Regions from separate parts of the Homo sapiens genome. Here region 2 is linked to region 1. The links come from fine-mapping of genetic effects on gene expression. A gene starts in region 1. The other region holds a variant in brackets. All regions are shown on one strand. Distances are from middle to middle.

Region 1 (4,392 bases):
TATATGTGTAAGGTATGGAGGCATAATCAGAAATTACGTGAAGGTAGAGATGGGGTGTGCCTACCACAGGAAAATTACAGGTGATAGAGTGCTTTACTTGCTGTTCAACTACTCACCCACAAGACTAGCATTTGGTGTTGTTTATTAAGAAGGTATTTACTAGCAGTCTTATTTAAAAAATGACCTGTGTTTAACTTTCCAGCCGCAGAAGAGAAAAAAGGTCTAGAACCCTGAAAAATTCCCATAGCAGAAGGAAGAAAGTAAAGGAAAATATGCTTTTAAAAAATGGAGAGAAAACAGGGGAAACGGCTGTAAGAGTTGTTTAATGATTTTAGCTATTTTCCTTAGATTACCATTTGTACTTTTTTTGTTTGTTTATGGTAAGATAGTTTTCATGTGCCAAAATTTCTGCTTGGACTAACAGAAAATTCATCCTGTAAGATTGTTATATGATCCCACAACGGTTAGGAGTGCCCTGGGTCCAGGCAGAAATCCAAAGATGGAGCTAATAATGTGACCCGCAGCTCTACTCCAGAATGCAGATGAATAGAGATTTTGAACAGTTCGGAGCTCAATGTCCACTGAATATGCACTCATACTTTAAACCTAAATAAAGTGAAGCCTTTGAGTTAAATGGCAGAGCGCCTCAGCAGCAATTTTGCTCGTTTTCAAGTTCTTATTTCGTGATTTGAAGCTTTTGACCTTGCTAGCATGTTCTTTCTGAACGCTTTTGCAGATGGTTGGTTATGGTGGGGAGTAGTAACCCTAGCATAAAGACGTTCTAATTCTAACTTACCTTAGGTAACCTATAAGGGTAGCTTACGCTCACTCTCATACTTGAAAATCAAAACCGAACAGAATTCACACGATGGAAGCAAATCATGCTACAACCTACTATTAGAGACTGAAGGGAAACGCACAAAGATTAATGAACAACAAAGAACACTTCAAAAAGTACAGTATTTGGAAAAGACATGCCTTTATGTACACTAAAACTAATTTAAAAAATTAAATGCAGTTTGCTAGGAGTCTTACAAGTATTAACAGCATGTTCACTGCTTAGGATCCTTAGTAGCAATATTTTCCCGGCTCGCCTGCCCCTATGCCTCATTTCCTCTTCTTTTTTTTTTTGAGATGGAGTTTCGCTCTTGCCGCCCAGGCCAGGTGCCATCTCAGCACTGCAACCTCCGACTCCCGGGTTCAAGCGATTCTCCTACCTCAGCCTCCCGAGTTGCTGGGACTACAGGCGCACGGCACCACACCCGGCTAATTTTTGTATTTTTAGTAGAGACGGGGTTTCACCATGTAGGCCAGGCTGGTCTCTAAGTCCTGACCTCAGGTGATCCGCCTGTCTCGGCCTCCCAAAGTGCTGGGATGACAGGCGTGAGCCACTCACCCGGCCCTCTTCTCGACTTTCTATCCCTCCTCCTCAACACCCTTTCCTTCTGGAAATGGGCTTTGGGGTGGTTAACCAAGCCCAGGGAAACTTGCGTGGCCCAGCATCTTCCGTCCGCTGCAGGAGGAGCACACGCCCCCGGCCCGGGTCAGCAAGACGCGAGAAAGCGGCCACGCCGGGCGTCCGGGAGCTGAGGCTGGAGGGCGCCTGGCAGGCAGGGCGGGGCCCAGGCGGCGGGAGTGCTTATGACCGGCGCTGGGGGGAACTTCTGGACGTCAAGGGGCCACTATAAAGCGGCACAGTCTTGAGCCTTCGCTCTTCACCTAAGTCAGTGAGCGCCCTTCGCAAAGCCTCTGTGGAGGTAACCATTGGGGGTTCGCCTCCAAATCCAGGAATGCACCTCAAAAATGCTCCTACACCGTAAGACCGTGTCCTTCAATGCAAAGGGGACTGTGCGGCGAGGCACCGACAAGCCGTAGCCCTGAGACCACTGAAAGCCTGCACCCCAGCGCCGGTGCGAGAACGTGGAGATGGCGGTGGGGAGGAGAGGTGGAGGCCATGCTCTCGCGTGATCTCCCCTACCGCCATCGTCTTCTGGCCTGTCAAGGCCTCGCGTTGTTTGGGCTTGGGGGCGGAGCGAGCCCTGAGGGGGGCGGGGCCAGATGGGGGCGTCTCCCGGCCTTGTTGACTTTGGCGTCCGCGGGGAGCTGCCCCTGTGCCCGTGGTTCTCTGCGCATGCCCGGACCCCGGCGGCTCCGGAGTCCGGGAGGCTCTGGCTGCTCCAGTCGCGGGTCCGGGCCCCGCCTCTCCACTCGGCGGTGGCGTCCGTGTTGTTATTGTGGTGGTAGCGGCGTCTGGCTGCTGCGGACCCCGCCGAGTCCTAGCGCCTGGCCTGCGCGCCGCTGCCCGCGCCACAGGTAACGCCGCCGCCAGTGGGGGCTCGGGGTCGTGGGGTGTGCGAGTCCCGCGTGCTAGGGCCGGGCGGGCGACTGGGATGCGCTTGGAGGCCAGAGGGCCAGGGGGACGGCAGCCGAAGAGTCGGGGGCAGGGGGACTTAAGGGCGGGCAGGTCGGGGGCCAGGAAACTGAGGCGCTGCGGGGCAGGTTGGGGGAAGGACGGGCCGGGGGCGGAGGACTTGGGAGGTCGGGGAGTCGAAAGGGGCCCAGCGAAGCCTGGAGGTCGGGAGCCGGGGTCCCTGGGGCCGGGGAGGTCGGGGGCCCGAGGGAGGCCGGGGCGCCGCGTCCTCGGCCCGTCCTCGGCTCGTCCTCGGCTCTGACCTGGGCTTGGGGACCAGAGTCCCGAGGCTGGCGTCTTGAGATGCCCGCGGGCCCCTTAGGGCCGTTTTGGATCCGCCCAGTGACTTCTGTTTTGGTTTTGGAGGCAGAGAATCCAGTCTACGTAGACTCGGGGAAGTCTCGGGGGCTGGGAGGGGACTGAGAGGTTATAGCAGGCGCCAAGGCCTCTTTTTGTGTTTTTGAGCGTCTACTACCGTTCCGGGGAAGTGCAGTGCCCGCGTTTTGCTTGGGGAATTTCAGACACCGGCATGGGGAGGACCCACGGGCAGAACCCGAGGGAGTAATTTTGCAAATCCAAGATTTTTTGGAACTTCTATAATTTTGTTTTCGTGTGTCCTCTTTTTAGAATCGAGAAACCAGAGATATATTTTTAACATTACAAATCAGAAGAATTTGCTACGGAGGAAAAAAGTATGCTTTTAGCAGTGTTTTTCCCCTATTTATTTTTTTAATTACAAAAGTACTGCTTGCTCCTTGAGAAAAACATGAAGCAGCCAAACAATGAGGAAACCTGCCCTCTCTCGCGCCCTTCCCCCCATATTTCTCCTTCTTACTACCCAGGGTAGCCAGTCTCCAAGTGTGGTGGGTAGTTATTCAGGATTTTTTTTTTCTGTGCATTTAATGAGTGTGCTTTAGAAACAAGATTGGGATCATATATAGTACAGTATATCGTTTTATTAGCCAACAATGCATCATGGATATTCCTCCATTTTATTACACACCTCATTATTTTAAAAAACATTATTACTATGTATTAGAGAATCCAATCTACGTAGGCTTGGGGAAGCCTTTTCTTCATTGTTAAACATGGTCGCCAAGTTTTCAATAATCAGTAGCTTTGAAAAGGGCTACAAGCCAATATTTTGAAACAATGTGGCAAAACTTTCAGAATGTCTGCGGCCAGACGACATTACTTTCGTATTAAGCAGATTAATATGTTTACGTATTGCTTAATGGTAGTTTACATGAGGCTAGATGACTCCATAAAACATAAAGTTGCTGAATTAGTTTACTTTTTGGTTTTTTTTATTTCATTTTTTTCTAAGTAAATTTTAATTCCATATGGTCAGTTGAACACTTGTAATTTCTTTAACATGAAGTAGCTAATATGTGAAGGAAAGGTAAGGTAGGAAAGATAGAAAGCTAGTGGCCCTAGCCTGAGACAAGAAAAAAAAAGCAACAGGGATTAAATATTTTGGTAAGTAAGCTATAGGGAGTAAACTGGAAGTGGAGGGGTGATACTACACTGCCTACTATTAAGTAAGACAGAAAGCTAGGAAATTCCCATTGCATACTGTATTTCTGTGTGCAGAAGAGCTGGAGGCTTTGTTGATTTAATCACTAGCTTGTATTTATTAAAAATGTACTGTGTTCATCTTGGTGCTAGCTTCCAGGGAAAGAACAACTGAGGAAGATAATCACGAACAACGTCTGGTTCTAAACATGCATAGCCTGAAATTTTAAGCCAAATTGTGTAGTATTTTATGATTTGGAAACTGTGCTCGAAAGGAATAAAAAAATCCATGACATTTTAGTTATTTTTGGTAATAATATGCTCATATATTTCTCATAACAACATAAATGACATTCTTCTCATTCTATAGAGTAATAAATAGAGGCTTTGAGTAAAAGAACTGCTCAAGATCCCATTGCTTTTTTTTTTTTTTTGTAATAGTGCGTGTTTATATTCAGGAGTGCTTA
Region 2 (4,392 bases), 52 kb after region 1:
TTTCTGTTTTATTTTCCTGTTGTTCTATTTAATACAGATACCAAATGTGAGTTGTAATAATCAGCATTGCATTACATTTTTATACACTTAATGCATTCAAGGTGTATATCACATTCTAAATAAATGAGATATTGGTGACATTGCTATTTAAATTCTGCCTTTTATTAATGCATTTTTCTTTTTAATTTACTTTGAACATGTTAGTTACCATTCATATTGTTAAGTAGTGATCATTAAAGATGTGCCTCCATGTCATTGAAAATTAAACAGTTTCATCTATAAAAAATCATAAATGGTGTTTACAATTCAGTATTAATGCATAGCATATTTTGCATGTATATTTATATTGTTTGTCAAATTCTTTACATATTAATGAATTGTCTTTATCTTTCATTATTAAATATCTTGTGTCAAGGTAGTATGAAAAACAAGTTATGTTTAAAAAAATTAAGAAATTTTCTTTAAGCTTATTTGCAAAAGTTGACACTTTGCTTTTAGATAATAAGCAGAAAGCAGGAAAAATAAAACGAAAAAGAGACCAGTGGCGTCTTTAACTGAGAGCCTAGAACTTTGAAATTCAGATTCTTTCTGTTAATAATGCAGTTTGAACTATGGATTAGAAGCCTTGATTACAGATTCTTAACACCTTTGTTATTATATTTATATATTCTGTCTTATAGGAAACATGGAGTGCCAGCAGTATTGACCTTTTTAATTGATCTCGTATCTATGCAGCCCTGGTTTTTCTTTTTTCATAAAAATGTAACTAGATTTTTTTTCTCTCTCTCTCTTCTCTTTTTTTTCTCTTTAAAGACACGGTCTCACTCTGTTGCCCAGCCCGGATTGTAGTGGCAGGAACATAAGAGTCTTATAGGAAACATAAGAGTGCCAGCAATATTAACCTTTTCAATTGAACTCCTATCTATGCAGCCCTGGTTTTTCTTTTTTTATAAACATGTAACCAGATTTTTTTCTTTCTCTTTTTTCTTTCTTTCTTCTTTTAAAACAAACAAAACCACGGTCTCTCTCTGTTGCCCAGCCCAGAGTGCAATGGCAGCAACACAACTAACTCACTGCAGCTTCTACCTCCTGGTCTCAAGCAATCCTCCTGCCTCAGCCTCTCGAGTAGCTGGGATTACAGGCATGCACCACTAAGCCCGGCTACTTTTTTTTTAGTTTATTGTAGAGACGAAGCCTTGCCATGTTGCCCAGGCTGGTCTCGAAGTCCTAGGCTCAAGCAATCCTCCCACCTTGGCCTCCCAAAGTGCTGGGATTATAGGTGTGAGTCACCGTGCCTGGCCCTTGGTTCTTAATGGATAATGAAAATGTAAACATCTCATGTTTTATAGTCAATGGATCACCCTAAAAGGAAGAAAGGGAAATTAGGTTTATGTCATAGGATAGTATTTTTCTTACTATGTACATAATGTTAAGTAAGTGTAGTTTTATTTCATTTTTTTTTCTTTTTTTGAGACAGAGTCTTGCTCTGTCACCCATGCTGGAGTGCAATGGCAAGATCTTGGCTCAGTGCAACCTCCGTCTCCTGAGTTGAAGCAATTCTCAAGCCTCAGCCTCCCAAGAAACTGGGATTACAGGTGTGCACCACCACACCTGACTAATTTTTGTATTTTTAGTAGAGACAGGGTTTTGCCATGTTGGCCAGGATGGTCTCGAACTCCTGGGCTCAAGCCATCTGCCCGCCTTGGCCTCCCAAAGTGCTGGGATTACAGGCATGAGCTACCACATCCTGCCTGTATTTGAATTATTTTAAATGAGGTAAACTATTTGGTTTTTTAAAACATTTTATATGTTGACATCTATGGAAATTCAAATTCTCAGAATATTTACATTTAATATATTGAAAAGTCACTGTGCTTTTCTAAGTTTAATTTTTTGGCTGCTTTATTATTTTGAATATAAAAATTTTAGTTTTACTCAGTTTATCTGGAGTAATAGGAATTACAAGAAGTCATAAATGATTTTGGGCAGACGTTCCAGTTTTCAGTTGAAGGCTAAGAGTTCATAAGGAAGGAAACAAGCAAAAAGTTTGACATTGCTTTAACCAGGACAATTTATAAAATGTAAAAACATTGCAAAGGAAGTTAATTCTGTTGTGGTTTGATGAATCAAGCACCTTTTTATTTATTTTTCCTATTGGAACACATTTTTCAAGTAAAAGCAATGTTTTTATAAAAGTATAGTAGGGGAAGGCATTATCCTTAT[T/C]GGATTTTGGGTTTAAGATTATATCTGAACATTTTGGTTAAATTTTTATAGTTTGGATATTTCCTAGATGGCAAACCATATTTTACATGTACTGTTTCAACATTCAAACATGACAATTTATGATTGTGATTTTTTGGTTAAAAGTACCTAATGGTCAGTAGAAACAATCCAAATATGCACTGTTGTTTTAGACATTTGGTAGAGGGCACATCCAGTTAAGTATTTCCTAAAGATACTGAAAATAAGACACCTTCCAGGACCAATGTCAAAGTGAAACAAAAATGTTGAGTGGAAAACCTGGTTGGCTGAATTTCAGAAGTTGAAAAGGGACTAACTGTAATTTGTGTGTTATATTCTCATGTGGGTCATGGGGCAGGTTAGTATGTATGTACAGTAGCCTTAGGAGACACTGAGTCCTCGTATTTTCAGGGTGAGGGAAAAGAGCCAGCCCAATAACATCTCTCGGGGCTGGGAAAACTCTCCTCTATTCATTCCCCTTTTCCTGGGAGGTAGTCCGTCCATGGGCATATGCAAAGAGAAAGCCTAAGTGAGAAGTGTAAAAGATGCTGGAGCATGAGAGTCAAGTCCAGCATGCTGCCCAATGGCCACATTCTGCTAGGCACTGGGAGCTCCAAAAGGCATGGAGTGGGGTGGGAATTTAGCCTCTACTGGCTGGGGGTAGCGATGCCCTGAGACATTCATGTAATATCTGTGTTAGCCCATGGTTTTAGGTATTTTGAATTACCAATTTTTTAGCAAATGATAAAATAATAGCAAGTAACTTAAACTTCACTTAGAAATACTATTCTTTTGGCAGTTTTGTCCTGCCAGATAAGCTACTCTCTTGGGAGAACTCTGTAGGTTTCAACCTTATCCCTGGTAGTAGTTTTTGATAGAAAACTCAGGCGAACTTTTTTTTTTCCCCTTTTTTTACATTAAAGCAATGTACGTGGATTTCCATTCAACTTTTAAGTCTGAGGCTAGGAAGTATTTGCATATTTCAAGCCATCTTTAAATACTCCTGTGATGTATAAATGAGCAGAACTTAAAAAAGAGCTCTGTAAGGGCATATTATTAATATTTTTTATAAAAATGCTGCTACGATTGCAGGTCCTTTTGGAATAAATCATGGGATTGAGCTTCATTCAGATGTGGTGGAATATGCCAAGGAAAAACTGGAGAGCTTCATCAAAAATAGTGATAGCTTTGATAAGTAAGTATTCATATCTATAGTTTTGGTTTAAAATCACTTAATAGATACATGCAACATGTCTATTCTTGAACACTATTATTGATCCTGACTGGCTCAATTGAATGCAGCAAAAATCAGTGCACCATAAAATGAGAAAAAGTTAAGATTATTCTGTGGTATAACTTTTACTATATGTAATTCTATAGTAAATTATAAATAATGTGATTTTTTGCTACTACAACTTTATTAGTAATGTTGAATTCATTAAACATTCAGCTATCTTTTCTGGAGATACAGTGTAATAATGCTGTGATTGCAATATTTGTCTGGAACTGGTTTTTTACCTTTTGGATAGTAATTTAGTAGTTCTGTCCTCTTCAGGACATGAGAGGTGGTACCAGTCAGTATACAAAGGACTTTAACATATTCAGCTACTTTGTAATATATCCAGAAGAAATGATCATAGAAATACATTGATATATCTTGTGATAGGATTGTTAATAAGAAATTGGTTTATAAAACCATTGTTTTGAACTCACAATATAACTCCTCTTAGAAGAAACATTGCACGGGCTTTGGTCCTTGGGCTGGCAGGAAAAGTCCATTTGGTGTGTAATCCTAAAATTCTGCATTGCTATAGAGCAAGAGCACTTACGCTGAAATCCATGAGCTCTTTGAAATTGTGTAAAATTTGGAGAGCTTTTACATCTCTCATTTCACTGTGTATCTGATTTTCAAAGAGAAAAAGTGTTAAAAAGGATAGAAAACACAAGCTTAGAACAGTCACTTTAAAGAACAAAGTTTTAGGCAAAAACACTGAGAATTTCAACTCGGCTTGTTGGGAGTTGGCCCTCATTTATATCCAGCCCTTGGCTATGACCATCAACAACTTGAGGGAGGGGGCTACATCAGAACTGAGGGCTTTTCTCTAGAAAGATCTAGATTGAAGGACACCACCAGAGAGAAGAAGCTAAAAA

The links. PIP is the estimated chance that this variant, and not a neighbour inherited with it, causes the effect.
Region 2: its variant is the best candidate, but not a certain one, in a credible set for the expression of PCMTD1 in whole blood (INTERVAL, PIP 0.67).

Annotation. Positions count from the first base shown.
Region 1 is chr8:51,896,851-51,901,242 of GRCh38, reverse strand. PCMTD1 (protein-L-isoaspartate (D-aspartate) O-methyltransferase domain containing 1) reads left to right here and starts at 2,207. Exons shown (of 6, transcript NM_052937.4): 1 at 2,207-2,313. PCMTD1-DT (PCMTD1 divergent transcript) reads right to left here and starts at 1,928. Exons shown (of 4, transcript NR_189279.1): 1 at 1,397-1,928. RefSeq lists enhancers at 1,091-1,150, 1,451-1,510, 1,681-1,970 and a silencer at 2,011-2,700.
Region 2 is chr8:51,844,705-51,849,096 of GRCh38, reverse strand. PCMTD1 (protein-L-isoaspartate (D-aspartate) O-methyltransferase domain containing 1) reads left to right here. Exons shown (of 6, transcript NM_052937.4): 3 at 3,334-3,436. Among named protein-coding and RNA genes, the nearest start is that of PXDNL, 37 kb to the right of the region's middle. The variant T/C (reference allele first, on the strand shown) is at 2,224.